Linked DNA regions of Homo sapiens. The protein of the gene in region 1 purifies or fractionates together with the protein of each later gene. This does not show direct contact. Each region holds a gene or a part of one and is shown in the gene's direction. Other genes may lie near its edges.

Evidence for each region.
Region 2: the proteins of MAGEB10 (region 1) and SDAD1 purify together in Homo sapiens (affinity purification with mass spectrometry; 2 studies listed by BioGRID and IntAct, with this or other methods). This does not show direct contact.
Region 3: the proteins of MAGEB10 (region 1) and SPTY2D1 purify together in Homo sapiens (affinity purification with mass spectrometry; 2 studies listed by BioGRID and IntAct, with this or other methods). This does not show direct contact.
Region 4: the proteins of MAGEB10 (region 1) and GTPBP4 purify together in Homo sapiens (affinity purification with mass spectrometry; 2 studies listed by BioGRID and IntAct, with this or other methods). This does not show direct contact.

Annotation. Positions count from the first base shown.
Region 1 is NC_000023.11:27,803,664-27,810,989, forward strand, and holds the start of MAGEB10 (melanoma-associated antigen B10), read left to right. Parts: upstream 1-4,326; 5' UTR 4,327-4,373; intron 4,374-7,326.
Region 2 is NC_000004.12:75,987,925-75,994,828, reverse strand, and holds the start of SDAD1 (protein SDA1 homolog), read left to right. Parts: upstream 1-3,883; 5' UTR 3,884-3,987; coding exon 3,988-4,077; exon of another isoform or gene 4,078-4,118; coding exon of another isoform or gene 4,119-4,133; intron 4,134-6,904.
Region 3 is NC_000011.10:18,610,314-18,617,349, reverse strand, and holds part of SPTY2D1 (protein SPT2 homolog), read left to right. Parts: intron 1-360; coding exon 361-475; intron 476-1,251; coding exon 1,252-2,787; intron 2,788-4,861; coding exon 4,862-5,036; intron 5,037-5,795; coding exon 5,796-5,873; intron 5,874-7,036. UniProt on the Homo sapiens protein: Histone chaperone that stabilizes pre-existing histone tetramers and regulates replication-independent histone exchange on chromatin.
Region 4 is NC_000010.11:1,005,429-1,012,464, forward strand, and holds part of GTPBP4 (GTP-binding protein 4), read left to right. Parts: intron 1-389; coding exon 390-479; intron 480-1,589; coding exon 1,590-1,700; intron 1,701-3,529; coding exon 3,530-3,607; intron 3,608-4,100; coding exon 4,101-4,152; intron 4,153-4,991; coding exon 4,992-5,092; intron 5,093-7,036. UniProt on the Homo sapiens protein: Involved in the biogenesis of the 60S ribosomal subunit. Acts as a TP53 repressor, preventing TP53 stabilization and cell cycle arrest.

The DNA of each region.
Region 1 (7,326 bases):
CTGAAGTCTATTGTTGGTATTTCTATTCTGTTTCGCTGATCTATTTGCCTGTCTTTACAAAAATGCCACACTGTCATGATTACTTGAATTTTATAATAAGTCTTGAGATTGGGTAGTATTAGTCCTCTTATTTTGTTCTTGTTTTGCAAAGTCGTTTTGGCTATTCTTGGTCGATCACATGTCCATATTAATTTTACAGTCAGTGTATTCACTTCTACAAAAATCCTTCTGGGATTTTGATTAAAGATAATTTGAGAACTGACATCTAAATCATCTTATTTTCCAATCCTTTTATTTCATCTGTTTCCCATTACTGCATTGGCAGGAACCCCTATTATAATGTGGAATAAAAATAGTGATAGCAGCTATTCTTATCTATTTTCCAATAGCCAATGTTTTTCTACTGAGTAGAATATTTGCTATAGATTTTGGTAGATATCCTTTATCTACTTTGATAACATCTCTTTTTATCATGAATTAATGCTGATTTTTACAAAATACTTTTCTGTATCAATTTAGATATGATTTTTCTCACAATATGTCAAGGCAATATGCCAGTCCTTGACCTGATTGGCCTCAGATCCCTTTCTCTCTCTTTCCTTGCTCTGTTCTCCAGTGTTCAGGAGATGATTGTAGGCTGCACTTCCTATGTTCTCCAACATTTGGCTGCCATCATGGTTCAAGCAACAGAAGGCACCAGCAGGTTAGTACAGTACAGGAGGACAGAAGCAGCTAGAGTTTATATTTTATTTTCTCTCTCTGCATCAGGTGCCTTCAACTGCTTTCAAGGTTTACATCTTCTCCATGGCTCTCACCCTCATCATACTTATCCACCTTAGTTCCAGATCCTATTGACCCCAACTCCAAGGCTCCATTAACATTATCTCCTTTATTTGTTTCTATCCTAGAGACTGAAGAAAATTTCTTAAGCTGCCAAATATTGGCTTGCCCGCCTCTCCCGTTTGGCTTCTCCATCACTTGAGTAACCAATTTTGTGCATCATATTCAACCTGACTTATGTATTTAAAGTAATTTCTGTTTTCCTGGATAATCTTTAACAGTTATACTTGGCTAATTATATTGATTGTTCTAATGTGAGACCATTTCATTCACAGGAAAGCCTCAACTGAGTCACTAGCAGTAAAATGTGTTCAAGTCTTTTATATTATATGTAACCAAAACAAAACACCCCTGGGAGACTGAAACCTCCTCTAAATAACTATGTCTCTCTTCTTCACATCCTTCCCCAAAATAATTTTTGCACTCACTAGCATTTGCGCACACATATTCAAAAAATTCTAAGAGCATAAGGAATACAGAGATATATTCAGCTTGTAAAATAATCAAGCACTGCACATAAAACTCTATAGCATTACCTGTGGGAAACAAATCAGGTGGTACACAAAGGAATATTTACAGCCTTAAATAAACTGATTAGAAAAAAACAGAAATATTTTAAACATGCAAAACTTCAAGAAGCTAGAGAAATAAAACCATATTTAACCCAAAGAAATAAAGCATAGGAAATAACTAAGATAAATGCAGAAATGATTAATTAAGACAGTGGAGCCAACTAACAAAAGCCTATTCTTTTAAAAGATTTATATAGGAGACAATTTTATAGTCATCTTCAATTACAAAAGAAAACTGATAGTAGCTTTAAAATACTGTACAAAAATAGGTGCAGAAGGAACTTGAATACCATAAGAGAACACTGTAAATATCATTAACAAATGATAGACAAGGGATGATTTCTACAGAAAGATATATTTCATCTAATGAAATCAGAAGGAATGGTAGAATTAGAAAAATTAACATTTTGCAAACCCTAATTAATTAATGGATAAATATACTAATCTTCAAAGACTGCCAACATCAACAAAAAGGGAGACAAATATTCGGTCCCCCTCATAATGGAAGTTACTTCCTCGTAATGAAAGTTCACATCACCTGTAAAGTGATCTTTCCAAATAAAACGAGAGAGAATAAAAATTAAATTTTAATATGATAAAACCTCTACCAATTGAAAGAAATACAGAGAAGAATGACATTAATGTTGCACAAAGCAAAAGCCAGACCATGTGAAACTGAACAGAGCATAAGATCTGTTTTTTTGTAAAAACAAAGATTGCAGGGATAAAGAAGTAATGTATGTGTGTTGGGGGGAAGAATGTATAAATTAATGGTCATAAAATGCAGTGATAATGATTAGATTTATTTGGACCCGGGTTCAAGAAAAAACACACTTAAATGATGTCAGTGGGTAAATGTGAAAATAACTGAACAGTTAATTACATGAAGGAGTTAATTTTATAAGGTGGGGTAGTGTTATCAGTTAATATTTCTGTCTTTAAAAACACATACTGAAATATTTAAAGATGAAATGATGTGATGCCTAGGATTTGTTTCACATTATTCCACTGGCAGACATGGTGTTATGTGTGAGTATAGACGAAGCCAGGTTGGCCATGTGTTGATGATTCTGAGTTCCAGGTATATTCTCTCTACAGTAGAATATATTTGAGAATTTCTACAATAAAAAGAATATATATAATCATTAAATTTGAAACCCCAAATGAAAACAGACCATTATTTAGGAAAATATGAATGGCCCAATTAATCCAAATAGAAATAAAAATCTGTAATTGCGAAACGCAAAATGAAACTGATCAAAGCTCCAGCCACCCTCAAATGTTTTGGGACCAGGCATTTTGGGACCAGTTCTACCAAATAAGCAGTGAAAAGCTGACCATCTTATGTAAACACAAAAATAACCACCATCTTATGATGTTCAACTCACTTTCCCAGGCTAGCTTTCTTTGATTAAAAAAACAAAAAACAAAAAAACAAAACAAAACAAAAAGAACAGCTGAGGATAACCTAGGTGCGGGGAGGGGAACAACTGAGCCAAGTTCACCCACACAGAGGCAAAGATCCTCAATAAACACATAGCAGGTCCAATATTGCAGTTAATTCAATGGAAAAAAAGTCTGTATCCATGAAATGTAAAGATAATACAACATTAGAAAAAAATTGCCTAAAATATTCTCACACTAACAGATTAGATTATTATTATTATTATTATTTGAGATGGGTCTTGCTCTGGCGCCCAGACTGGAGCAACCTCGACCTGCTTGGACTCAAAAGATCCTTGGGCCTCAGCCTCCAGAGTGGCTCAGACTACAGGCGTGCGCCACCGTGCCCGTCTAATTTTTTTTTTAATTTTTTATAGCGACCGACTCCCACTATGTTGCGGACTGGTGTCGATCTCTTGGGCTCCAGCAATCGTCATGTGTCAGCCTCCCGAGTAGCTGCGCTCGGCCATTACATTTTTTTAAATGGGCATTCGATCATGTACTGAGGTACAGAAAAATTTTTCAACAAAAAATTCAACACAAATGCTTGATAACATTCCACAAACTAACATCAGAAGATAACTTTCATTTCCTAAAACCTATGGCAAACAAACTTAAATGTGAAATGCTGAACGCTCGACGCATTCTCATTAAAGCAAGGAACCAGACATAAATGTATGCTGAATACATGGCCAGAGGATAAGACTATAAAAACAAATGTAACTTGGAAATATTTAATAGAAATAGAAATTATTTGGTGAAAATGTGATCATCATTTTAGAAAATCCAAAGGAAAAGACCACACCCAATCCAAATCAATAAATGACTTCTGAAAAGCGGTGTATAAATCACTGTAGCAAAATCAAAAGCCTTGCCACACAAAGCAGTAGTAATAGAACATGCATATAATATATTTGGTGGAACAAATAAGACCATAATTAAAATGAATTTCACTGCACAATACAATGCAATGTTAGATAAAGTCAAGAGATCTGGGTCTCACAAAATTGTGTACATCTATGGCTTCTCTATAGAAAGTAGATCTTTTAGAACAGAAAGTTCGCAATGTCTACATTTCGCCAGTGAAGAGACCCCATAGTTATAATGCACTTACTCCAACATCTCAGAATCTGTCTTGGGCACCCTACCTTTGTGCTGCGGCCTCTCTTCTCCCATCAAGCCTGGAACGCAAACCCATTATCCGTAACGGTTTATGTTGCAAAACTGTCCAGAGCTTATTGTTTGGTGATTATTTCTCTAAGGAGCCTGTAATCAATGAATTAGGAGCCAAAATATGGATCTACTTCCGAGAGGACTTAATATTACTATTACTCCATAACAAAGAGGGCGCCACAGAAAGTCACGCCACGCCGCCCTTGCTGGCAGCCCTTCGGGCCGTGGGCAGGATGCCCGGATGTCACGTACACTTCCGCTTCTGCCGTCCGTGGGAGGTGAGGCCTTGCAGTGAGGCGATTGGTATCTGGTCAGCAGAGAAAGGCATCCAGGCCCCGCCAGGAGGTAAGGCAAAGACACTGAATAGCATTTGAGGGGACCCACTACCACAAAAGAAAGAACGCCATGCCGTCCGGCCTCGGCCTTAAGCCGCAAAAGCCCCGGGCAGGGATCCTCTTAGGTATCGCACTCTGCATTATTCTTCTGGAGAGTCAGGGAAGTGATAGCATTGGGCTAAGGTGCTGGCATCAAGCCACCAGAGATTGGGGTCTTAGAACCCTCCAGTAGTCAATAAAGGGTTATTATTTCCCTAAGGGGCCTTTAATCAATGAATTAGGAGCGAAAACATGGATATACTTCCTAGAGGAGGACTTAATATTACTACTACTCCATAACAAAGGGGGCGCCACAGAAAGTCACGCCACACCGCCCTTGCTGGCAGCCCTTCGGTCCGTGGGCAGGATGCCCGGATGTCACACACACTTCCGCTTCTGCCGTCCGTGGGAGGTGAGGCCTTGCAGTGAGGCGGTTGGTATCTGGTCAGCAGAGGAAGGCATCCAGGCCCTGCCAGGAGGTAAGGCAAAGACACTGAATAATGTTTGAGGGGAACCCCTACCGCAAAAGAAAGAACGCCATGCCGTCCAGCCTCTGCCTTAAGCCGAAAAAACCCCGGGCAGGGATCCTCTTGGGTATCGCACTCTGCATTATTCTTCTGGAGAGTCAGGGAAGTGATAGCATTGGACTAAGGTGTTGGCATCAAGCCACCTGAGATAAGGGTCTTAGAACCCTCCAGGAGTCAATAAAGGGTGAGTTCCATAAAACTCCCTTTCTGCCATAGCGGACCGGTCCCCACAGAGCCCAGCCTCTGCTCTCAAGCCTGGGTGATCCTAAGTAGGGGTAGCTGGAATTTCCACCTTTAACCTCTCAAGGAGATGAGGGTATTGGACCACGGTGTCTGCCTCGGGCAGCAGGGGAAGGAGTCCTATTGAGAGGTGACAGCATGCTGGCAGCCCTCACAGCCCTCGCTGGCTCTTGGTGCCTCCTCTGCCTGGGCTCCCACTTTGGTGGCACTTGAGGAGCCCTTCAGCCCACCGCTGCACTGTGGGAGCCCCTTTCTGGGCTGGCCAAGGCCGGAGCCGGCTCTCTCAGCTTGCAGGGAGGTGTGGAGGGAGAGGCCTGGGCGGGAACCAGGGCTGCACGTGGTGCTTGCGGGACAGCGCAAGTTCCCGGTGGGCATGAGCTTGGCGGGCCCGGCACTCAGAGCAGCTGGCAGGCCCCCCGGCCCAGGCAGTGAGGGGCTTAGCACCTGGGCCAGTAGTTGCTGTGCTCAATTTCTCGCCAGGCCTTAGCTTCCTTCCCGTGGGGCAGGGCTCAGGACCTGCAGCCCGCCATTCCTGAGCCTCTCCCACCCCCCCAACCCCGCCAGCCCCCTCCAACCCCGCCAGCCCCCCCCAACCCCGCCAGCCCCCCCCAACCCCGCCCGCCCCCGCCCCAACCACCACCCCCCCGCCGGCCCCCCCCCCGCCCCGCCCGCCCCCCCCCCCGCCCGCCCCCCCCCCGCCGCCGGCCCCCGCCCCGCCCCGCCCCGCCCACCGCCCCCACCCCACCCACCCCCCCTCCTGTCCTACCGGAGCCTCCCTGACGAGCGCCGCCCCCCGCTCTGCGGTGCCCAGTCCCATCGACCACCCAAGGGCTGAGGACTGCGGGCGCATGGCGCGGGACTGGCAGGCAGCTCCACCTGCGGCCCCAGTGCGGGATCCACTGGGTGAAGCCAGCTGGGCTCCTGACTGGTGGGGACTTGGAGAACCTTTATGTCTAGCTAGGGGATTGTAAATACACCAATCGGCACTCTGTATCTAGCTCAAGGTTTGTAAACACACCAATCAGCACCCTGTGTCTAGCTCAAGGTTTGTGAATACACCAATGGACACTCTGTATCCAGCTACTCTGGTGGGGATTTGGAGAACCCTTGTGTCAACACTCTGTATCTAGCTAATCTAGTGGGGAGGTGAAGAACCTTTGTGTCTAGCTCAGGGATTGTAAATGCACCAATCAGCACCCTGTCAGATCAGACCACTCAGCTCTCTGTAAAATGGACAAATCAGCAGGATGTGGGTGGGGCCAGATAACAGAATAAAAGTAGGCTGCCCGAGCCAGCCTTGGCAACCCGCTGGGGTCCCCTTCCAAACTGTGGAAGCTTTGTTCTTTCACTCTTTACAATAAATCTTGCTGCTGCTCCCTCTTTGGGTCCACACTGCCTTTATGAGCTGTAACACCACGAGCGAAGGTCTGCAGCTTCACTCCTGAGCCAGTGAGACCACGAACCCACCAGAAGGAAGAAGCTCCGAACACATCCGAACATTAGAAGGAACAAACTCCGGACACGCCACCTTTAAGAACTGTAACACTCACCACGAGGGTCCGCAGCTTTTGAGACCAAGAACCCACCAATTCCGGACACACTATGCTCTGCCACGTGTTAATGAAATGCCCCAGTGTGGGCTGTGGGGGAAACTAGCTTCCCATAAAGATGGCGGCCTTAGAGAATCCTGCCCTTCCTGTAAGTTCTGGGAGGTCCCTAGCGTGGCTGTAAGGCCCAGGTGACCCCTCGCTTCATATTCTGGTGGTGGTCGTGGGGAAGGGTACAAACTAAGGCTAGCGCATTGAGGTCAGCAGTGGAAGGAGTCTTTGGGGGTAACCAGGAGTTTAGTTTAGAACCCAGAGCAAAGACTGAAGGGATTTTCTTCCCAGAACAAAGGGGACCCAACAGAGTACCACTACTATGAGCCTTGGTAGCCTTTCAGCATGACTCTCGGCTAAGGTATCCCTCAATTTATCCTTAGTGGTCACAGGGTGATGAGGACATAGATTTGATAGGGCAGTCAGTGGCAGGTCATTAGAGGGAGGTGACTCAGGCCCTTATGGAAGTCAAAGTGAGGACTGATGGGGCTAGGCACTGCCTCTGTGGTCAGCCTTGGGAAGCCCTGGGCAGATTTGTCATTCTGAACGCACCCCACCC
Region 2 (6,904 bases), on another chromosome or scaffold:
TAGGTGCCAGCAGATCTAGTATCTTAGTATTTGATGAGGCACTCTTCTTGATTTGCAAACAGATGTTTTCTCGTATCCTCACATGGCAGAGATCAGAGAGAAAGGAGGTAAGCTTTCTTGTGTCTCTTCTTACAAGGATGATAATCTCATCATGAGGACTCCACCTTCATGAACTAATTACCTCCTAATACCATCCCATTGGGGGTTAGGGTTTCAACATATGAATTTGGCGGGACACAATCATGCAGTTCATAACAGCCTTCTATGCCACTGAAGAACTTCAGCTTTTACTCTGAGTGAGAAGGGAAGTTGGAAGAATAACCTGATCCATTTAAGGCTCTCTCTGACCACTACATGGAAATACAGTGTAAGAGGGTAAGGGAAAATGCAGAGAGACCAGTTAAAGGTCAGTTACCAAGTATGTTTCCAGGAGAAGGGAGAGACCAACTGTGTCCAATGCTGCAGGTTAAGTTAAATAATGAAAATTGATGTGATTGGTGATCTTGATAAAAAACAGTTTCAGTGGAATGGTAGAAGCAAAAGATTGATCGGCAGTTTCTTAAAAGTTACACGTAAACCTATCATATTGATCCAGTTATTCTATTCCTAGACATTTACCAAGATATTTATGTCCACATAGAGACTTGATGGCACGACATGGTGGCTCAAGCCTGTAATCCCAACACTTTGAGAGGCCAAGGCGGGAGGATCACTTGAGGCCAGGAATTCAAGACCAGCCTGGACAACATAGTGAGACCCTGTCTTTTATATATATATATATATTTTTTTTTTTTTTTTTTTTTTTTTTTGAGACGGAGTCTTGCTCTGTCACCAAGGTTGGAGTGCAGTGGTGCGATCTTGGCTCACTGCAACCTCCACCTCCTGGGTTCAACCGACTCCCCTGCCTCAGCCTCCTGAGTAGCTGGGACTACAGGTGCGCGCCACCACGCCCGGCTAATTTTTTGTATTTTTTAGCAGAGACGGAGTTTCACCATGTTGGCCAGGATGATCTCGATCTCCTGACCTCGTGACCCGCCGCCTCGGCCTCCCAAAGTGCTGGGATTACAGGCGTGAGCCACTGAGCCCAGCCAAAAATATATTTTTTTAAATTAGCTGGGCATGGTGGCACACCACCTGTAGTCCCAGCTACTAGGGAGGCTGAGTTTAGGAGTTCAAGGCTGCAGTGAGCTATGATCATGCCACTGCACTCCACCCTTGGTGACAGAGCAACACCCTATCTCTTAAAAAGAGACTTGAACATGAATGTTCACAGCCAAAACTGGAAACAACCCAAATATCCAGCAACTAGTGAATGGATAAACAAATTGCAATATGTCTATATGATGGAATACTACTCAGGAATAAAAGGAGTGAACTATTGATACATACAACACCATGGATACATTTCAAAATAATTATGCTAAGTGAAAGAACCTTGACCTCAAATAATAGGTACTGTATGATTCCATTTGTATACAATTCCAGCAAACACAGACATATCTTTGGTGACAGAAAGCAGATGTGTGTTTGTCTGGGGATGATGAGGCACAAGGAACGTTTGGGGATGATGGATATAGTCATTATTTTGATTGTGATGATGGTTTTATGGGTACATACATATGTCAAAACTTATCAAATTGTTCACTGGGTAGTTTGTTGTACATCAATTATATCTTAATAAAGCTATAAAATAAATACATTATAATTTTAAAAATAAAGGATGGAATTTCACATGAAAGCAGAGATGTTGGCCTTAGATACCCAAATTATTTAACATCTGAAAAATATATATTCAGTTAGCCACTCTTAGTCTTAGAGTTCTCATTTATCAAAAACAAATCCTGCCTTCCATGCTGCTGGAGGTAAAATGAACTGACCTATATGCCCTCCTTAGAATAGCAATTAAAGCCTTTCATATCAGGACAATATAACCTTCTCAGCTCTTTCCCTGCTGCACCCTGCCCTCCCAGCCTTTAGTCACACCAAACTTATGGCTATTGTTTCAATACACCAGACATTTTCAAGTACCTGTACGCAGTCTTTTTTCTTTTTTTTTTTTTTTTGAGACAGGGTCTCACTGTATTGCCCAGGCTGGTGTGCAGTGCTTCACTGCAACCTTAACCTCCTGGGCTCAAGCAACCCTTTTGCTTCAGCCTCCTCAGTAGCTTGGACCACAAGCCTGTGCCACCATGCCTGGCTGATTTTTCAACTTTTTGGTAGAGATGGGGTCTCACTATATTGCCCAGGCTAGTCTTGAACTACCCAGCTCAAGTGGTTCTCCCACCTTGGCTTCCCAAAGTTCTGGGATTACAGGCTTGAGCTACCACACTTAGCCAGATTTTGTTTTGAGAATACTTTTTTTGCCCTCACTAAAACAACCTAGCCAAAAAATTTTAATTTAAATCTATGCTTTTTAAAAAAGATTTATTGCTGACATTTATTTCTTAACTTCACAGGTAACTGATTTGATAATTAATAAATAAGTCATTCTCCAAAAGCAGCTGAATAACATGGTTTGTGAAGCATTCTTTATTTTGTGTGCAGGTGTGATTACAGAGTTGTTTTGTTTGGGGCTCATTTTATCATCGTCACAGATGAGGTTGGCGTTCTATAAAATTGCTTTGGTTAAGCAGAACCCTATTGTCTGGCTATTTTGCCAGACCAGCAACCAGCTACCAGCTGTTAGGCTATGTTTTTTCTCATGTAGTTACAATCAAGACTGTCTAGATTGAAATCTCATCTTCCTCACAGGCTATGAATTGAGGCAGTCAACTTCCCTGAGCTTGTTTCCTCTTCTGTAAAATGTAGATAACAATAGCACCTATTTTAGAGGGTTGTTCTGAGGATTAAATAAGTTAATACAAGTGCTTGGAATAGTGCCTGGCACAGGGTGGGTAATTAGGTTTTTTTTTCTCTCTCTCTAATTCACAACACCCTACCTCATTCATTCAACCCTTATTGATTTTTTACACCTTGAGATTGTAGAAATGTATTCTCCTCTTCGAATTACCAGGATCTGAATTAAAAACTCTGACTGAGGAGTGCTTACAAAGCTTATAACGATGGTTGAATTTTAACGATTAATTGCATTTATTAATGGTCAACATGATCACATTTTATCCAGCCCTCTTTTCCCTTGTATGGGTCACGCTAAGTTGAAACAACCAAAACCAAAATAAAAACATATCTAAAATCATACACATTAACTTATATGACCCTCGTTGCTCTTTTTTCCTCCTAAGAGGGAATAGTGTTATCTAGCGCCACGGTTCTTTTCAGTTTTGTTTTGTTTTGTTTTGTTTTTTATACGGAGTTTCGCTCTTGTTGCCCAGGCTGGAGTGAAATGGTGCAATCTCGGCTTACCGCAATCTCCGCCTCCTGTGTTCAAGCGATTCTCCTGCCTCAGCCTCCCTAGTAGCTGGGATTACAGGCATGCGCCACCACGCTCGACTAATTTTGTAATTTTAGTAGAGACGGGGTTTCTCCATGTGGATCAGGCCGGTCTCGAACTCCCGACCTCAGGCCCGCCTTGGCCTCCCAAAGTGCTGGGATTACAGGCGTCAGTTTCTAATTTTAGACTGCGGGATTAAAAATAAACGATTAATCCTCATTTATGTGCTTCATATGGGTGTCGGAATGACGATACATGCTAACACACGTGAAAAAATTTACATTTCAGATCCTTTCAGAAACGCAAGGCAATATTAAGTAGTAGCATATGCCCAAGGGCGAGGGGCGGGTCGGCGGTGGCTGGCTCTCCAATACACCACAGAGTATTTTGGCAACGAGAGTAATTTTGACACTCTGAGGCTTCCGTAGCATAGCTCGCTTTAGGAACCGCTAAGGTGTCGCCTGCCTAGAGTCCCATGCGCTATTTCCGGTCATACCCGGAAACACGAGTCCAAGCTGCAGCTGGCAGGGATTGCGGGGTGCCGGCCGTCTGAGTTTTTTTAAAACTGCTCGCCGCGAAGTCTGTCTGCAGCCAAAATGTCCAACAGAAACAACAACAAGCTTCCCAGCAACCTGCCGCAGTTACAGAATCTAATCAAGCGAGACCCGCCGGCCTACATCGAGGAGGTGGGAGTGCGGCGCGGCAGACGCTAGAGGCCGGATAGTGGATGGTTGAGACGCCGGTGCGGGAAAGCATGGAGTGGGGCTGGGATCCAGGCTCGCCGCCTATTCTTCTGTTAGGTTCAGGGGTCCCTCCAGAGGAGAGAAGGGGTTGGGGACGGGACATGCCTTAGGGTTCGTTCCCCACCTCTTGAAAATCTGTTGCCCCTTTGGATTTTCTACCTGCCCTGCTGCCGCTGAAACACCTTTAAAACCTCATTTTGTTTTAAGATATTTTTCTTCGTCCGCACGGAAGTGGAGAGAGAAATGGGCCGCACCCAACCACCAACTTCCACGCGGATTTCTCAGCCTCTTTTCAGAAATCCCAAACTTGAATTAGTCGGTAACCTTTGATGAATCGTATGTTAGAATGCTTTCGATTGACGTCCGTTTCTGAGAGCAGGCTGTGTACCCTGGACTGTGCCAGGAAAGGGGGGGGGGGGGTTTCTCAAGCACAACGGACAGACTCGGGAGCTTAGTATATTTAGTTAAGCCAGGATTCAAACTTACCGGAGACTGGCATGACTCGGATGTCAGAATTTGCTTCGGGAAAAGATTAGGTTGAAAAATTAGGCCCTCATTGTGATGGGCTTTGTGTACTGACCTCATGTAAGTTGTGAACATTAGGGGTGTTTGAACCAAGTACCGACAAAACGAAAGTGGTTTTTGATATATTAATCTGACAGGTGCTTCCTTCAGACACTCATTTATCAGACGGGCATTAAACAGGTATCTCTGCTAGGCATTTGCTGCAATTACATGTTTGTGCTTCTACCAGATTGTGATTTGTTCAGTGGCTAACACAATTACTTATTTTTTCATTGCCCTTCTCACTTCCCTCCTCCCCTAAATTTTCACATATATGTATTTTATGAGTGCTTTTTAACACATGGCAATCTCAGTGGCTTAGGTCACCAGTAGAGAAAGCCTCTCCAAGGATCAAGGTAGTGGAAATAAAGAGTAGGAAACAAGTACAAGAAGTTAAGTAACATAGGCAAGGCTTTGAGATGCTTAAAGCATTGTATAGCCATTCGCAAAGAAAGTGGTAAGTTGAGAGTCTATATAATTCCGTTAGATAACTCCTGCTGCTGACTGTTGTTAACCAGTTGTGTAACCGAAGCAGGTTAATCGCTGAGCCTATGTGGGTATTTTAATATGTAAGAAGGGGGTAATAACTACTTCTTTAATTCACTTAAGTATATATGCAAAATCACATATAACTACTGTGTGTTGTTATTCTAGGTAGGCGTTGGGGTACAGTAATGAATAAGACAGATAAGAAAGCATTCTTCTCTTGGACTTACATTCAAGTGAGTGTAGACTTATTATGGTAGAGATTATGAAGAAAATAAAACTGGATGGGAATAGGTTAGAATTGGAGGCTTCTGATTTAGACCCCGTAAACAGGGAAGGTGGCTCTGCAATGATGATATTGAGCCAGGCAGGTAAACATCATTTTAGGTACAAGGAATAGAAAGTGCAGAAGCTACTGGTGGAAAAAAAGCAGAGAAGAAGCCAGTGTAGCTAAAGTGTAGTCAGCATAGAAGAGGGCAGTGGAAGATGATGTAGGAAATGCAGGCAGGGGTCAGCTTATTCAGAGCCTCTTAGGCCCTGTTAACGAGTTTAGATTTCACTCTGAGTGCCTCGGGGAGTGATTGAAGAGTTTTAAGCAGGAGAGTGACATGATCTGACATATTTTTTTTAAGAATTTACTCTGGAAGTTACATGTGGAATGGCTTGTAGAGGAGCAACACTGGAAGCAGGGTAACTAATATAATGGATCTCAGAATAACCAAGCAAGGGATTGTGGTGTCATTGGAATTATGGGCAAAGATTCGTGCTGTTCTACGTGGAGGTAGAGCTAGTAGAGCCTTGGGATTTCTGGTGGAGTGGATGTGGGGGATAAGGAAAAAAGAAGGAATGAAGGATCACCCAGGTTTTTTATTTATATGTCTAGGTAGATGATAGTGCCATTTCCTGAAGTTCGTTCATTTGACAAATACTGTTGATTACCTGCTATATGTAAGGCACAATGCTGGGCCCTGGGACTACATAATATTGAGCTGTACCGATAAAAATTCTATGCTCATTAAATGACATTCTAGTAGGGGGTGATATACAGTAACAAATAATATAGTATGTTAAATAATGAAAAGTGCTGTGAAAAAAAGACAATAGGAAAGTACTTATGTATGTTGGGGGTGAGATGGGTATTGCAGTTTTAAATTGGATAGTTAGGGAAGGTCTTCTTGAGATAGTAATCTTTGAGTGAAAACCTGAAGGACATGAGGGAGAGCTGTGCATATGTTTAGGAAGAATGATCTAGGCAGAAGGAACAGAAGGTATAAAGACCTTGGGGTAGGTATGCCTGGTAGATTTCAGGAACATAAAGGCCAGTGTGGCTCCAAATAGGGAATGAGGAAAGGGGGTGAATTTGGGATTCTACCTCCCAATGAGATGGAAGCCTTTACAGGGTTTTGAGCAGAAGAATACATGAACCACCCTATATGAGAACAAGATCACCGTTACTTGAGGATAGACTGTATGTAGGAGGGCAAAGATAGAAGCAGAGACACCACATAAGAAGCTATTGGAATTATCCACAGCAAGAGATGATGCTGGGTTGAGTGGTGCTAGGATGGTAACAGGAAGTAGTAAGAAGGGTGATTAGATCCTGGATTGGGTAGGTAGAGAAAGCCCTGGGGATTCCCAACATTTAAAGGCCAGTGAGTTTCTAAGTAACTGGAAAAAGGGACTGAGAAAGCAGCCAGTGAAGTTTCGAGGAAAACCAGGA
Region 3 (7,036 bases), on another chromosome or scaffold:
CAGCCTAAATCAGAATTTTAAAACACAAATAATCGATTCTTCTAAGTGGTGATTTCATTTAGTTACCCAGTCCAGGTTCTTTTTTGGAAAATAGCCTGAAAACAGTGTTTCTGTGAATTGTTCATTTATGCATTATTTTGGGATGTTACATGGAAACTTTGTACCCCAAAATCACCATACGTAATAAATAGTCTGAAATTTTATAGCTAAGCTTTATTATGGGTTATATGATCTCTCAATTATTCAGAATAGGTTTCACAGTTAACATTTATACCTCTTATTACCTGGCACAGTGCCTTATACCTAATAATGTATTTTAAAAGTTGAATTGCTTCTAACTTTTACTGTTTTTGTTTTTAGAAAAGGTATAGTTTGGCAGTGGGGCCTCCAAAAAAAGACCCAAAAGTTAAAGGTGTCCAATCAGCAGCTGTACAAGCTTTTCTTAAAAGGAAAGAAGAGGAGCTGAGACGAAAAGGTATGTATCTATAGCCTTATTCTCAATTTTAAAGTATTCCATCTTCACCATCTAGCTTGTACTAAACCAGTGGCTGTCTATAAAAACATAACAGGCCAACAGATTTGGGAGGGTGTGTGTGTGTGTGTGTGTGTGTGTGTGTCCAGGTTAACTGACTGTATTCATGGCTTTACATATGTTACCTCGATCATTTGTATAAACGTTTTCTTTTTTTCTCCCCTTGAAGTAACAGCTTTTTGGGGGTTAGTAGCCATGTCTTCTAATTGGCCATAGTAAGTCCCCAGTAAGAACTCCATTCTTTCTTTAATCTTGGTTCTGAAAGTGTTTCTACCCATTTTGTATTTTAATTTTTATTAACAGAATGCTATCTAAAAGGCTAAAATAGAGATAAGTTTTAAAGTCTTTATTTCGAATAGTTCTACTTCATGCAAATACAAAGAAACTGATTCAATATGTTTAAGTATTCATTGAATCATAATTAATAACAACTACTAAGTGGATACTAATGTTCTCTTAACTTGGTAATGTATTTGGTTTGAAGTATTTTGTATATTTAAAGCTGAAAACCAAGTCTCCCACTTGCTTAGTCATATAGAAAAACCCATATGTCTCCCACTCATTATGTAAAGATGACTCAATTGATACTTGTTCACATGACTTCCTCATTTGATTCCTAGATGTCTTCAAACTGTAACCTGAACGTTGTGTTTTCACTTGAGCATACTGCAATCTTGAGATCTCGAAGTAATAACATATTCTTGTTTTGTCCCTTTTAGCCTTAGAGGAGAAAAGGAGAAAAGAGGAACTAGTGAAAAAGCGAATTGAGCTCAAACATGACAAGAAAGCAAGAGCTATGGCCAAGAGGACAAAGGATAATTTCCATGGTTACAATGGGATTCCTATTGAGGAAAAGTCAAAGAAGAGGCAGGCAACAGAAAGCCATACCAGCCAAGGAACCGACCGAGAGTATGAAATGGAAGAAGAGAATGAATTCCTCGAGTACAATCACGCAGAGTCAGAGCAGGAGTATGAGGAAGAGCAAGAACCTCCCAAAGTTGAAAGCAAACCAAAGGTCCCCCTTAAAAGTGCCCCACCACCCATGAACTTCACTGATTTACTCAGGCTGGCTGAGAAAAAGCAGTTTGAACCAGTGGAAATCAAGGTAGTGAAGAAATCAGAAGAGCGACCTATGACCGCAGAAGAACTTAGGGAGCGAGAATTCCTTGAACGAAAGCATAGGAGAAAAAAACTTGAGACAGATGGAAAACTACCTCCAACTGTGTCCAAAAAGGCACCCTCTCAGAAAGAAAGTGTGGGCACAAAACTTAGCAAAGGTTCTGGAGACAGGCATCCTTCTTCCAAAGGAATGCCCCTTCCTCATGCTGAGAAGAAATCAAGACCCAGCATGGCCAATGAGAAACACCTCGCTTTGTCTTCATCCAAATCCATGCCAGGAGAGAGGATCAAGGCAGGATCTGGCAATAGCTCCCAACCCTCACTTCGTGAGGGCCACGACAAACCTGTTTTTAATGGAGCTGGAAAGCCTCATTCCAGCACCTCTTCACCAAGTGTCCCAAAGACTTCTGCTAGCAGGACTCAGAAATCTGCTGTTGAGCACAAAGCCAAAAAATCTCTGTCCCATCCTAGCCATTCCAGGCCTGGGCCCATGGTCACCCCACACAATAAGGCTAAGAGTCCAGGTGTCAGGCAGCCAGGCAGCAGCTCTAGCTCAGCCCCTGGGCAGCCCAGCACAGGGGTTGCTCGACCCACAGTTAGTTCTGGCCCTGTGCCTAGGCGCCAGAATGGCAGCTCCAGCTCAGGACCTGAGCGATCAATCAGTGGGTCCAAGAAGCCAACCAATGACTCAAATCCCTCTAGGCGGACAGTCAGTGGTACATGTGGCCCTGGACAACCTGCAAGCAGCTCAGGTGGCCCTGGGCGACCCATCAGTGGTTCAGTTAGTTCTGCAAGACCCTTGGGCAGCTCTCGTGGCCCTGGCCGGCCTGTGAGCAGTCCACATGAACTTCGACGACCAGTGAGTGGCTTGGGCCCCCCGGGGCGGTCTGTCAGTGGCCCTGGGAGATCCATAAGTGGCTCAATTCCAGCTGGACGGACTGTCAGTAATTCAGTCCCAGGAAGACCAGTGAGCAGCTTGGGACCTGGGCAAACAGTTAGTAGCTCAGGTCCCACTATAAAGCCTAAGTGCACTGTTGTCTCCGAAACAATTTCTTCCAAGAATATCATTAGCCGGTCCAGCAATGGACAGATGAATGGAATGAAGCCTCCCCTATCTGGCTACAGAGCTGCCCAAGGTAAAATTTCCCCTCACCCGAAAGAGTATATATTTGTCATTAGGAAATTGGAAAGAGTTTTTATATTATCAGGGACCCTTTGAACCCCTCATGTGCTGTCCTTTAATGTGCTGTAGTGTTGATAGAATCGTGATGTTTTATCTGCCTTGTGGTTGAGAGTTCCTTGTTTTTTTGTTTTTGAGACAGGGTCTTGCTCTGTTGCCCAGGCACAATCACAGGCTCAAGCAGTTCTCCCACCTTAGCTTCCCAGGTAGCTGGGACTATAGGCGTGTGCCACCATGCCTGGCTAACTTTTTATTTTTTATAGAGATGGGGTTTCAGTATGTTGCCTATACTAGTTTCTAACTCCGGGGCTCAGAGATCCGCCTTCCTCAGCTTCCCAAAATACTGGGATTATAGTCATGAGTCACTATTCCCTGCTGAGAGTTCCTTTAATGGCTTGGAAAGGTCTTTAGAAAGAGACTTGTCTAGGATCTCTGTGTTCACCCTTGAAATGTCCCTAAGTGTGATAAACTTAGCTTTGTGATTTGTGAACATTCAGGGTGAATGTACGTGACTTACATATGTATGCTGCAATGGATGAATTAATCTACTTTTTCCTGAGGACTAAAGAGACCTGTCTTCAAGGATCAGGGTATAATCGGAAGCTTATTCAGCAGATATTTCTTGGGCACCCATTATGTGCCAGGAACTGTTTTTAGATTGTACTTGTGTTTCTGCTTGTTATAATGGTTAGTATCAAGATCCTAAACACTGATCCTTCAGGAATCTGCTGTCCCAAGGTATATGATCATTGGTGGCACCTGCTAGCTGCTAGGTCGTACTTGCTTTATGCTAATAGAGATTTATTAAAGCACTTGTTAGGCTCCACGGAGAATATAAAAAGGAACCAATGATTGAATTACTTGTTTTAAATTTCCTAGTTCAACTAGACCATTGATTCTTAACAAGGGCAATTTTGCCCTCCAGGGGACTTTTGGCAATCGTCACAACTGGGGATGGGGGATGCCACTGGCATCTACTGAATAGAGGACAGGGATGCTGCTGACAAACAATGCATGGGATAGCCCCCTGACAGCAAAGAATTATCTGGTCCGAAATGTCATTGAGCTAAGGTTGAGAAACTAAGCTAGGGAGACAAGCCATGCATATTAAAAACAACCGTAGAAGAACAAAAGAAGTGTCTGTAATCAAAAACTAGAAAGTAGTTGTTCCCAGATCCTGGGCTGTTGATCAATGCCTGTCTTTTGCAAAGTTTTTATCAGTCTTTTGGTAAAATGACAAAAATAAGGATAATGTAGTGAGTTTTTCCTACAGTCAAACTTACTCAGTTTGAACAATATAATTCTGAGAGTCATTCATACTTCATTCAACTTTAAATTTTTAAATGAAATTGTGATTATAGTAGATGGTAGTTGCTACTTTTGGTGTCTTGGCAAAAGTTAATGATTCTGTGGAGGTTTGTAAATTGTATTTATTTTTAGAAATTTTACTGATTTTGGCCGGGCGCGGTGGCGCCGCCTGTAATCCCAGCACTTTGGGAGGCCAAGGCAGACAGATCACCTGAGGTCGGGAGTTCGAGACCAGCCTGACCAACGTGGAGAAACCCCATCTCTACTAAAAATACAAAATTAGCCAGGCGTTGTGGCACATGCCTATAATCCCAGCTACTCGGGAGGCTGAGGCAGGAGAATTGCTTGAACCTGGGAGGCAGAGGTTGCAGTGAGCCGAGATCGCACCATTGCACTCCAGCCTAGGCAACAAGTGAAACTCTGTCTCAAAAAAAAAAAAAAGAAAGAAAGAAATTTTACTGATCTTATAAATTCAGAAATATTGGCACTACTAAGCTAGAAAATGTAACAAGATATTTCTGGTAAGCCCTGGGATAAAACAGGAGTTCTGTTCCTTCTGGATACCATGACACAGCAAGGATGATGGCTCTGCGCTAAGGGCCAGCCTGCTTGCTCTGGTTTTAAAGGATACCATCTTAATGATGACTCACAATTTCAGTTTACATAGAACTGCATTGGAACTATTTTAAATTGTAATATTCTTATAAATAATGGTTTCTTAGGTCCTCAAAGGCTTCCCTTCCCTACTGGTTACAAAAGGCAGCGAGAATATGAAGAGGAAGATGACGATGATGATGAATACGACTCTGAAATGGAAGATTTTATTGAAGATGAAGGAGAGCCTCAGGAAGAAATATCCAAGCACATTAGAGAAATCTTTGGTTATGACCGAAAAAAGTAAGACTAAAGAAGATTCAGATAACTATGACATCCTTTTTTTATTTTGAATAATTCATGTCATGGGGTAATAAACTAATAGTGGAGGCACTGAATACAATTCTTAATTAGGAACCCTTGGGTGATTGTTATTTAAATAAACGTACTCTTTTAGCACTAAATATTTTATATTTAATTCAAAATAGTTTCTGTAGTTATTTGCATGAGGAACAAAAAATAACCCTTTTAAATTGTTATTCTTATAAGATATATATTTAGTGAGATGGAAGCAGCTTAGTGTAGTAGAAGTAGATTGGCTCTTGAAAAAACAAGCTGTATGTTCTTGGTCAGTCTGTTAACTCAACTGCTTCAGTTTCCTCTGGTCTAAAGTCTTTCCCCACCTCATGATGGTCATGAAGCTCAAATTAGATTATTATATATAAAATAATTTTCATATATACTGTGCTTTCAAATTTTAATATAAATTATCAAGTAAATGTAGGTGAGTGAGTTGAGGAAGCACTGTAGGATTGGTACCTTCATGAACATTAGCTTCAGAATAGTTGCCCTCTGAGGGTAATAAGGGCTTATCTAAAACTTGTCTTTACTTCAGAAACCTATCCATCCTCCACTCCCCTCACTCGCTGCCAAGCAAGGAATAATTCTAAATGTGTGCTTGATTTAGTTTTAAAGGAGATATTGATTTTTTAAATGAGAGGACGTAGTTCCTTTAGAAAATTGAAGTTTTCTCTTTTTATCATTTTGATTTCCTTTTATCAGATACAAAGATGAAAGTGATTATGCCTTACGTTACATGGAAAGTAGTTGGAAAGAGCAGCAGAAGGAAGAAGCAAAGAGGTAAGCATAAAATTTAGCATACTTGTGCAAAAATGTCCTAAAAATTCCTTTCTGCTTATTGCTACAATTGCACCATTGGGAACTGGGGCTTTGGGCCAGAGAATTCTGGATTCCAATCCTGTTTACTAGCTGTGGGGCCTTGGACAAATTCCTTAACAGTTCTGTTTTTTCACTGGTTTTTGTTTTTTTGTTTTTTAACAGAGATGGGGTCTCGCTATGTTGACCAGGCTAGTCTCAAACCCCTGGCCTCAAGTGATCCTCCCATCTCAGCCTCCCAAAGTGCTGGGATTACAGGCATGAGCCACTGCACTGGACCATCACTGTTTTTTTTGTTTGTTTTGTTTTTAAGAGATGGGGTCTTGCTTTGTTATCCAGGCTGGTCCCAAAGTCCTGGGCTCAAGCAATCCTCCTGCCTTAGCCTCACAAAGTGTTGGGATTATAGGTGTGAGCCACCATGCCCAGCCTATTTTCTTTTGTAAAATGAGAATATACTGTTTTACTCATTTAAGTATAATGAGGATTAAGACGTGTACAAGATGCCTAGTGCAGTGCCTCACATGTGTGGATACACAGTAAATGTTAGATGCTTTCCCTAATCCTGTTGTAGCAAATTCTTGCTTTTCTTTCTGCATCAGACACATCTCAATCTTGGTAACCTGTAACATTGCTGGCCTCAGGGATGTAGGTATATTACATTTCCTCTGATTTCTGTTTGGCTATCTGATAGTAAGCTAATGATACTTTCTCTATTGGGGTAAAAAGTAATTACTTTGTTTATAGTATTGTTGTTTTTTTTTTTTTTTTTTTTTAAGAGACAGGGTCTTGCTCTGTCGCCAAGGCTGGAGTGCGGTGGCATGGTCACGGCTCACTGCAACCCCCACCTCCCCGGGTTCAAGCGATTCTTCTGCCTCAGCTTCCCAAGTAGCTGGGACTACAGGTGTGCGCTACCACGCCCAGCTAATTTTTGTAATTTTTAGTAGAGATGGGGTTTCACCATATGTTGGCCAGGCTGGTCTCAAACTCCTGACCTCAGGTGATCCGCCTGGCTCGGCTTCCTAAAGTGCTGGGATTACAGGTGTGAGCCACTGTGCCCGGCCATAATGTTATTATAGGTAAATAATTCACTTCAGTCTCAAGCCAGAATACTATATCTTTTTCTCCCT
Region 4 (7,036 bases), on another chromosome or scaffold:
CCACCGCGCCTGGCCCCTGGTGTTTTCTTTGGGCTGTATTTCATCGTCTTGCGTTTTTCTGCTCCCCAGGGTGCCTGTTACTCCTGTGATGCCCTCTGGAGCTCCCCCTCAGTTATTAACATGTAGTTGTTCGTTATTCTGATTGCCTTTGTTGTGGGGGACAGATGTGAGGGGCTACTAGTCGGCCATCTTTTTGATGTCATTTGTGTTTTCTTGATCATAGAAGAATATGAAGAAAATAACTGTTTTTAGGATATGTCTGTTTTTTAAGACTTTGAAACAACCACAGATGTTCACATTTGCAGCCTCCATTTGCAGAACTGTACAGTTTGTTCCATAGGGAACTGGAAATGAATAATACATCTCTCGTTTTTTCTTTGCATTCCCAGAAAATATTTACAGATTTGCAGTCTGAAGGATTCCCTGTAATAGAGACCAGCACCCTGACTGAGGAAGGTGTTATTAAAGTTAAAACAGAGGTCAGTGCTGCCTTAAGTCAGGTATTAGTCTTTTTACTGTCTCTTGTTTGATTCAAGTCAGTTGTGGGGAGAAAATAGTTTTCTTTCTAGACATTGTTAACACTTGGAGCCCTCGCAGTAGCGAGGCGGGTGGCGTGCGAGAGTGGGGCGTGAAGACAGACCCTTCTAAGACCCACTTTGCCCCCCGTGGACAGTGGGTTGTGAGGGGATGCTTTGCTCTTCTCACCCCAAACAACTTTACCCTAAAGCAGCTGTTGTCTCTGGCCTTTTAATATTTCGGTAGCAAGTACAGTGAAAATTATTTTTATGGAACCTGTTCGAAGTAGAAGGGAGAAAAGTCTGAAAAGCAGAACAGCTTTTGCAGGAGGCAGTCCGCTGCTGGATTTCACATGCTGTCCTAATTACTTTGTATTTCATGTTGTTTTTATCTCAAATAAAAGGACATTTCTGGCCAGGCGCAGTGGCTCACGCCTGTAATCCCAGCACTTTGGGAGGCTGAGGCGGGTAGATCACCCAAGGTCGGGAGTTCGAGACCAGCCTGGCCAACGTGGTGAAACTCCGTCTCTCCTAAAAATACAAAATTAGCCGGGCGTGGTAGCGCATGCTTGTAATCCCAGCTACTCGGGAGGCTGAGGCAGGAGAATCGTTTGAACCTGGGAGGCGGAGGTTGCTGTGAGCTGAGATCATGCCACTGCACTACAGCCTGGGCAGCAAGAGCGAGATACCATCTCAAAAAAAAAGATGGCACTCCTGATGCCATGGTCGCACTCAGGATTTAAAAAGATGGCACTCCTGATGCCATGGTCGCACTCAGGAATTTGTTGCTCGGTTAGAGTCCTGAGGGGCAACATTGCCTCCGGTTCGTGAAGGGCAGTTGGAGGGCACCGTCTGTGCAGAGGGTCACTGTGGTGGGAGAGAGGCCCAGGCACTGGAGATGCACCTTCCCTCAGGGCCGCTTCCACCTGGGCCTCAGAGAATGTGGCCCCCTACGTGTTAGTTACCTTGAGGGAAAAGGCTCAGTGGCTCTGATCTGTGGCTCCTCCTGGAACCTGTAGCTGGAGGCTGCTGGAGGATGCGTTTGTGACTGTGCCTTCTTTTTTACGTTATTAGGCTTGCGATAGGCTTTTGGCTCATCGAGTGGAAACCAAAATGAAGGGAAATAAAGTGAATGAGGTGCTGAATAGACTGCACCTGGCTATCCCAACCAGGAGGGACGATAAGGTAAGACGGCCCCTGGGACAGCCGTGGGCTCACAGTACTGTCAGCAGGTGCTGTCTGCGTGCCTTTTCCAGAAGCCTCCCATCCAGCTTCACACACTCGCAGGTGGATATTGTGGGTGGGCCTCAGTTTCACCTTCTTGCTTACATAAAGGATCGAGAAGGTGAAGAAAGTGCAGAACGCCACATGGCACCCGTTTCCCACTGCATGACGTGGTCACTGTTAGTTTATCCTTCCAGAAATGTTTCTGATATAGAAGATTAGTTTCTAAAAAGTTCTTTAAACACAGATGGAAATCTGTTTCATTCTTTAAATTTTCATTTTTTTGGCTGGGGGAAGTAGCTCACGCCTGTAATCCCAGCACTTTGGGAGGCCAAGGTGGGAAGATTGCTTAAGCCCAGGAGTTCTTGACCAGCCTGGGCAACATAGTGGGACCCTGTCTCTATAAAAAATAAATAAAATAAATTTTCATTGTTTTGTCCATTGTGAATGGGCACACATCGTTACGCTGTGTCTTCATGTTTTACTGCAAATGTGTCTGCACTTCACCATGTGGTGTTGACAACGTTCCTGTCCCACAGACGCCTTCCTGGTGTGTGCTGCACTGACGCTGGAGGCTGTGTCCTTCCCTCTGTCTTTCCTTGTGTCCTCGGCGTGGTCGGGCACTGACTGTCAGTCTTGTGTAAAGATGATTTTATTGTTGTGTGTTTATGTAATGCTGGGTGCGGTTGAGCATGTTTGTCTGCTTATTGGCCTTTTCAAAGTTCTTTAGGCTGTTTATCTTTTTCTCGCTGATTTGTTACTTTTGTATTACAAAGGTTGGATTCTTGTCAGATACATTGCAAATTTTTTTCTCTTTTTGTCACTTGCCTTTTTAACTTCAAATGTGCTGTACATTTTTGAACTATTAACATATATTAATTTTTTTTTCTGGGTGTTCAGGTTTGCATTGTACATAGAAAGGCTTACCATTCATTCCAAAGTCATTTTAAAAGTATCTTTTCTTGCTGGGTGCAGTGGCTCACGTCTGTAATCCCAGCACTCTGGGAGGCCGAGGCGGGTGGATCACCTGAGGTCAAGAGTCTGAGACCAGCCTGGCAATCATGGTGAAACCCCATCTCTGCTAAAACTACGAAAATTAGTCGGGCGCGCACCTATAATTCTACCTATTCAGGAGGCTGAGGCGGGAGAATCGTTTGAACCTGGGAGGTGGAGGTTGCAGTGAGCCGAGATCACTCCACTGTACTCCAGCCTGGGTGACAAGAGTGAGACTCTGTCAAAAAAAAAAAATTATCTTTTATACTAGCATTAAAAATTAGCTTTTTTGGATAGTCTTCACCGTGTCTTGAGTTGGTTATGTTGTGAGGGTGGAGGTTGCACTCCGTTTCAAGTGGTCGGCATTTCTGACCTGAGTATTGGAAATTTTATGTTTCCATTGAATTCTTATATGCACTTGAGTTTATGTCTAAATTTCTTTCATCTGTTGATCCAGTGTTATTTCTTACCACTTTCTTCTTCCATAATTTTTCATGATAATCATGATTTCTGTTTTTCCTGGATAAACTTTGGAATCACTTTGTGGAGTCCTCCTGGTCTCTGTGCTCAAAGTGACCCTGAACCCACTCCTCTCCCCTAAAATAATCTGTTGGTTGTTAATTGGTCTCGGTATGAACCCACTCCTCTCCCCTAAAATAATCTGTTGGTTGTTCATTGGTCTGGGTATGGTTTTCTGTTCCCCTTGCACGTAGGGAATTTGTTTCTACTTTTTCGGCTTTGTAAGTTTCTCATTCAGCAGGCATTTCACATAAATATTTTATATGGGATCTTCTCAGGAGAGGCCCCCTTTCATCCCTGAAGGAGTGGTGGCTCGCAGGAAGAGGATGGAAACTGAGGAGTCCAGGAAGAAGAGGGTATGCTGCCGAAGCTCTCGCCCAGTGTTCTCATGGGGGGAGGCAGGCTGTGTGTGCCCATCGTGGGGGCCTGGGGCATCGAACAGGAGCCGCGGGTGCCCAGACACTGGCCCCGTCAGGCTGCGGACACAGCAGTGAGTCCCCCTGCAGAAGCCTCTCTCATGGGGCTCTTTGGCCTGAGGGAAGATGGCCGTGAACCAAATGCATGAGTGGGATAGACAGTCCCCAGATGGCCAGAAACAGCCTCTTCCTACCAGAACCTAAAGGCCGGCCCCACAGACAGGGAGATAAGAAACAGCCTCTTCCTACCAGAACCCAAAGGCTGGCCCCGCAGACAGGGAGATAAGAAACAGCCTTCCTACCAGAAATGGAAGGTGAACCCCACTGATACTGAGAGGATTGGAGAAAAGATTGTTTCAAGTGACAAGGGGCAGAGCATTTCTGGATCTGAAAGGCAAAATGAAGCTGATGATAATTTCTCTTTCTATTGCAGGAACGAGATCTTGAGCTGGAAATGGGAGATGATTATATTTTGGATCTTCAGAGTAAGGGCCAGAGTGTGATCATTATTATAAAATGCCAATTGGACGTGAAGTATTTCAGAAAATGGGGGAAAGACTTTAATAAGTAATAAAAGTGTTTCAGCCTATTTGTCAACTTTTAATTTCTTGAAGATTAAAAGTTGCATCCTGAGGGCCAGGTGCAGTGGCTCACGCCTGTAATCACAGCACTTTGGATCCCTTATGCCCAGGAGTTTGAGACCAACCTGGGCAACATGGCAGAACCCCGTCTCTACAAAAAATACAAAGATTAGCCGGGTGTGGTGGCATGTGCCTGTAGTTCCAGTGACACGGGAGGCTGAGGTGGGAGGATCACTTGACCCTAGGAGGACAAGGCTGCAGTGGGCAGAAATTGTACCTCTGCCCTCCAGCCTGGACGACAGAGTGAGACTCTGTCTCAAAGAAAGGTGCATGCTGATAGCACTCAGTGGGGGTTCTTCCATTGTTTCCTGTTGTTTTGGGATGGTGGGGTGATTTCTGTAGCTTTCTCCACGTGTGGGTGTTGAATGAGGCTGATGTGTTGTTTCCTGTTGTTTTGGGATGGTGGGGTGATTTCTGTAGCTTTCTCCACGTGTGGGTGTTGAATGAGGCTGATGTGTTGTTTCCTGTTGTTTTGGGATGGTGGGGTGATTTCTGTAGCTTTCTCCACGTGTGGGTGTTGAATGAGGCTGATGTGTTGATGCTGCTGCATGTGGAATTGCACGTCGTGCTCTCTTCTGCAGTGGAGTCGTTGATTTGCCGTCAGTCACAACTCATTTTGCGCACGTAGTACTTGAAGATATTAAAAACTGCTGTAAACGTAACCACCTTTTTTTTAACTTTAGAGTACTGGGATTTAATGAATTTGTCTGAAAAACATGATAAGATACCAGAAATCTGGGAAGGCCATAATATAGCTGATTATATTGATCCAGCCATCATGAAGGTTTGTGTCACTTTTTAAATTGCGGATTGTTTTCCTTTTTATTATAGTAGTATTGCTGGAAGATAGCAGCATGGCTTCGGCTCAGCTGGGCCTGTCCGCTTCATTCTGCACCCCTCCATCCTGACTCTGCCCCCTGTACCACTTCCCCACCCTGAGACTCTGGTGGAGATACTGGCCCTGGCTGGGCTCTGCTATGCTGGCCTGCCCCCTTCCCGCCGCCTCCACCCACCCACCCCGGACACTCTGGTGGAGATGCTGGGCCCCTTCGTTATCCTGCACCCCTCCATCCTGACTCTGCCTCCTGCACCTCTTCCCTGTCCCGACACTGGTGGAGATGCTGGGCCCCTTCATTCTCCTGCATCCCTCCATCCTGACTCTGCCCCCTACACCACCTTCCCCACCCCGAGACTCTGGTGGAGATGCTGGGCCTCTTCATTCTCCTGCACCCCTCCATCCTGACTGTGCCTCCTGCACCACCTTCCCCCCCACCCTGTGTCTCCGCCAGGCCCTGGATGGGCTCTGCTGTGCTGGGCCCTTCATTCTCCTGCATCCCTCCATCCTGACTGTGCCTCCTGCACCTCTTCCCCCCACCCCGAGACTCTGGTGGAGATGCTGGGCCCCTTCATTCTCCTGCATCCCTCCATCCTGACTGTGCCCCCTGCACCACCTTCCCCACCCTGTATCTCCGCCAGGCCCTTAATGGACTCTGCTGTGCTGGACCCTCTTCCTTGGGGGCTCCGCTGTGTCACATCTTTTTCCTGCCTCAATCCCCTCCCTACTTGCTTTTTCTTAGCATATAAAAGTCCACAAGTTTTACTCATCTTTTTAAAAAACGAAAACATCCTTAGACCGTGTCCTCCATTAGTTGCTATCCTGCCTTCTTCTCTCAGCTGAGCTGTCTGAAACATGCTAACATGCTTATACAATACTTGCTGTCCTGCCTTCTGCTCTCAGCTGAGCTCTCTGGAACATGCTTTTTATACAATACTTGCTGTCCTGCCTTCTTCTCTCAGCTGAGCTCTCTGGAACATTCTTTTTATACAATACTTGCCATCTGCATGTCCCATGTTGCCACTCCTTGGTTCCCACAGGCCCTCCGTCATTGAGTTCACATTTTCAGTCTCGTGGTCTCTGTGCTCCCTGTGCCTCCATAGCAGATTCTGGGATAGCAGATTCTGGGGGCAACAATCTCAATTTCGTTGGTGCTGGAGGAGTGGCCTCAGGGCATCTGCTGTCACCTCTGCTGGGGCCCCAGTCCAGCCCGTGCCCTCACTGTCCCCGCGGTGGCCGCCTGCCTTCCCAGCCTCTTCCCCTCTGCAGTGCGCGCTCTTGGGCGCAAGAAGCCTTGAGACTTCCCTCCTCCGCACAGCTGTGCCCGTGCCATCCCCTTCCACGAGGCCTGGCCCCCGTCTCACCCTCTGCACTGCTGGCCAGCATCTCGTACAGGCACATCTGCCTGCTGGGCTCCTGGCCGGGTTGCCTCATTGGGGGGTGATAAACGTGTGTGTTTTAGTTTTCATTTTTGTCTTATTTGTAGCCAGTGAGGTTGTATTTGGGGTGACATTAGAACGGACACGTGGGATGTGGCACGAAATCAGTGTCTCAGGACTGAGTTCCTTGTGTGTGTCTGCCGGGAGCATTGGAAGTGAAGGAGGCGGTCTCTGCACATTTTTAGCCTTGGAATTTAATTGTTTTAAAAAAAGGAAATGGTGCACAGGGGTTACTGACTTGCTGGCGGCTGGCGTTCACGTGGTCTCCATTTTCTTCACAGAACCCTCCCTGTGAGGTAAATGGCACATAGGCAGGGCCCAGGTGGGTCTGGACCAGGGCAATCGCTCTCCTCTGAGTCAGGGAAACAAAGCTCCCATACACACTCTGCCACACTCACTGACTCAGGGGTTTTCTCATTGTTAATTTTGCTTCATTACAACTCCATTTTTAAAG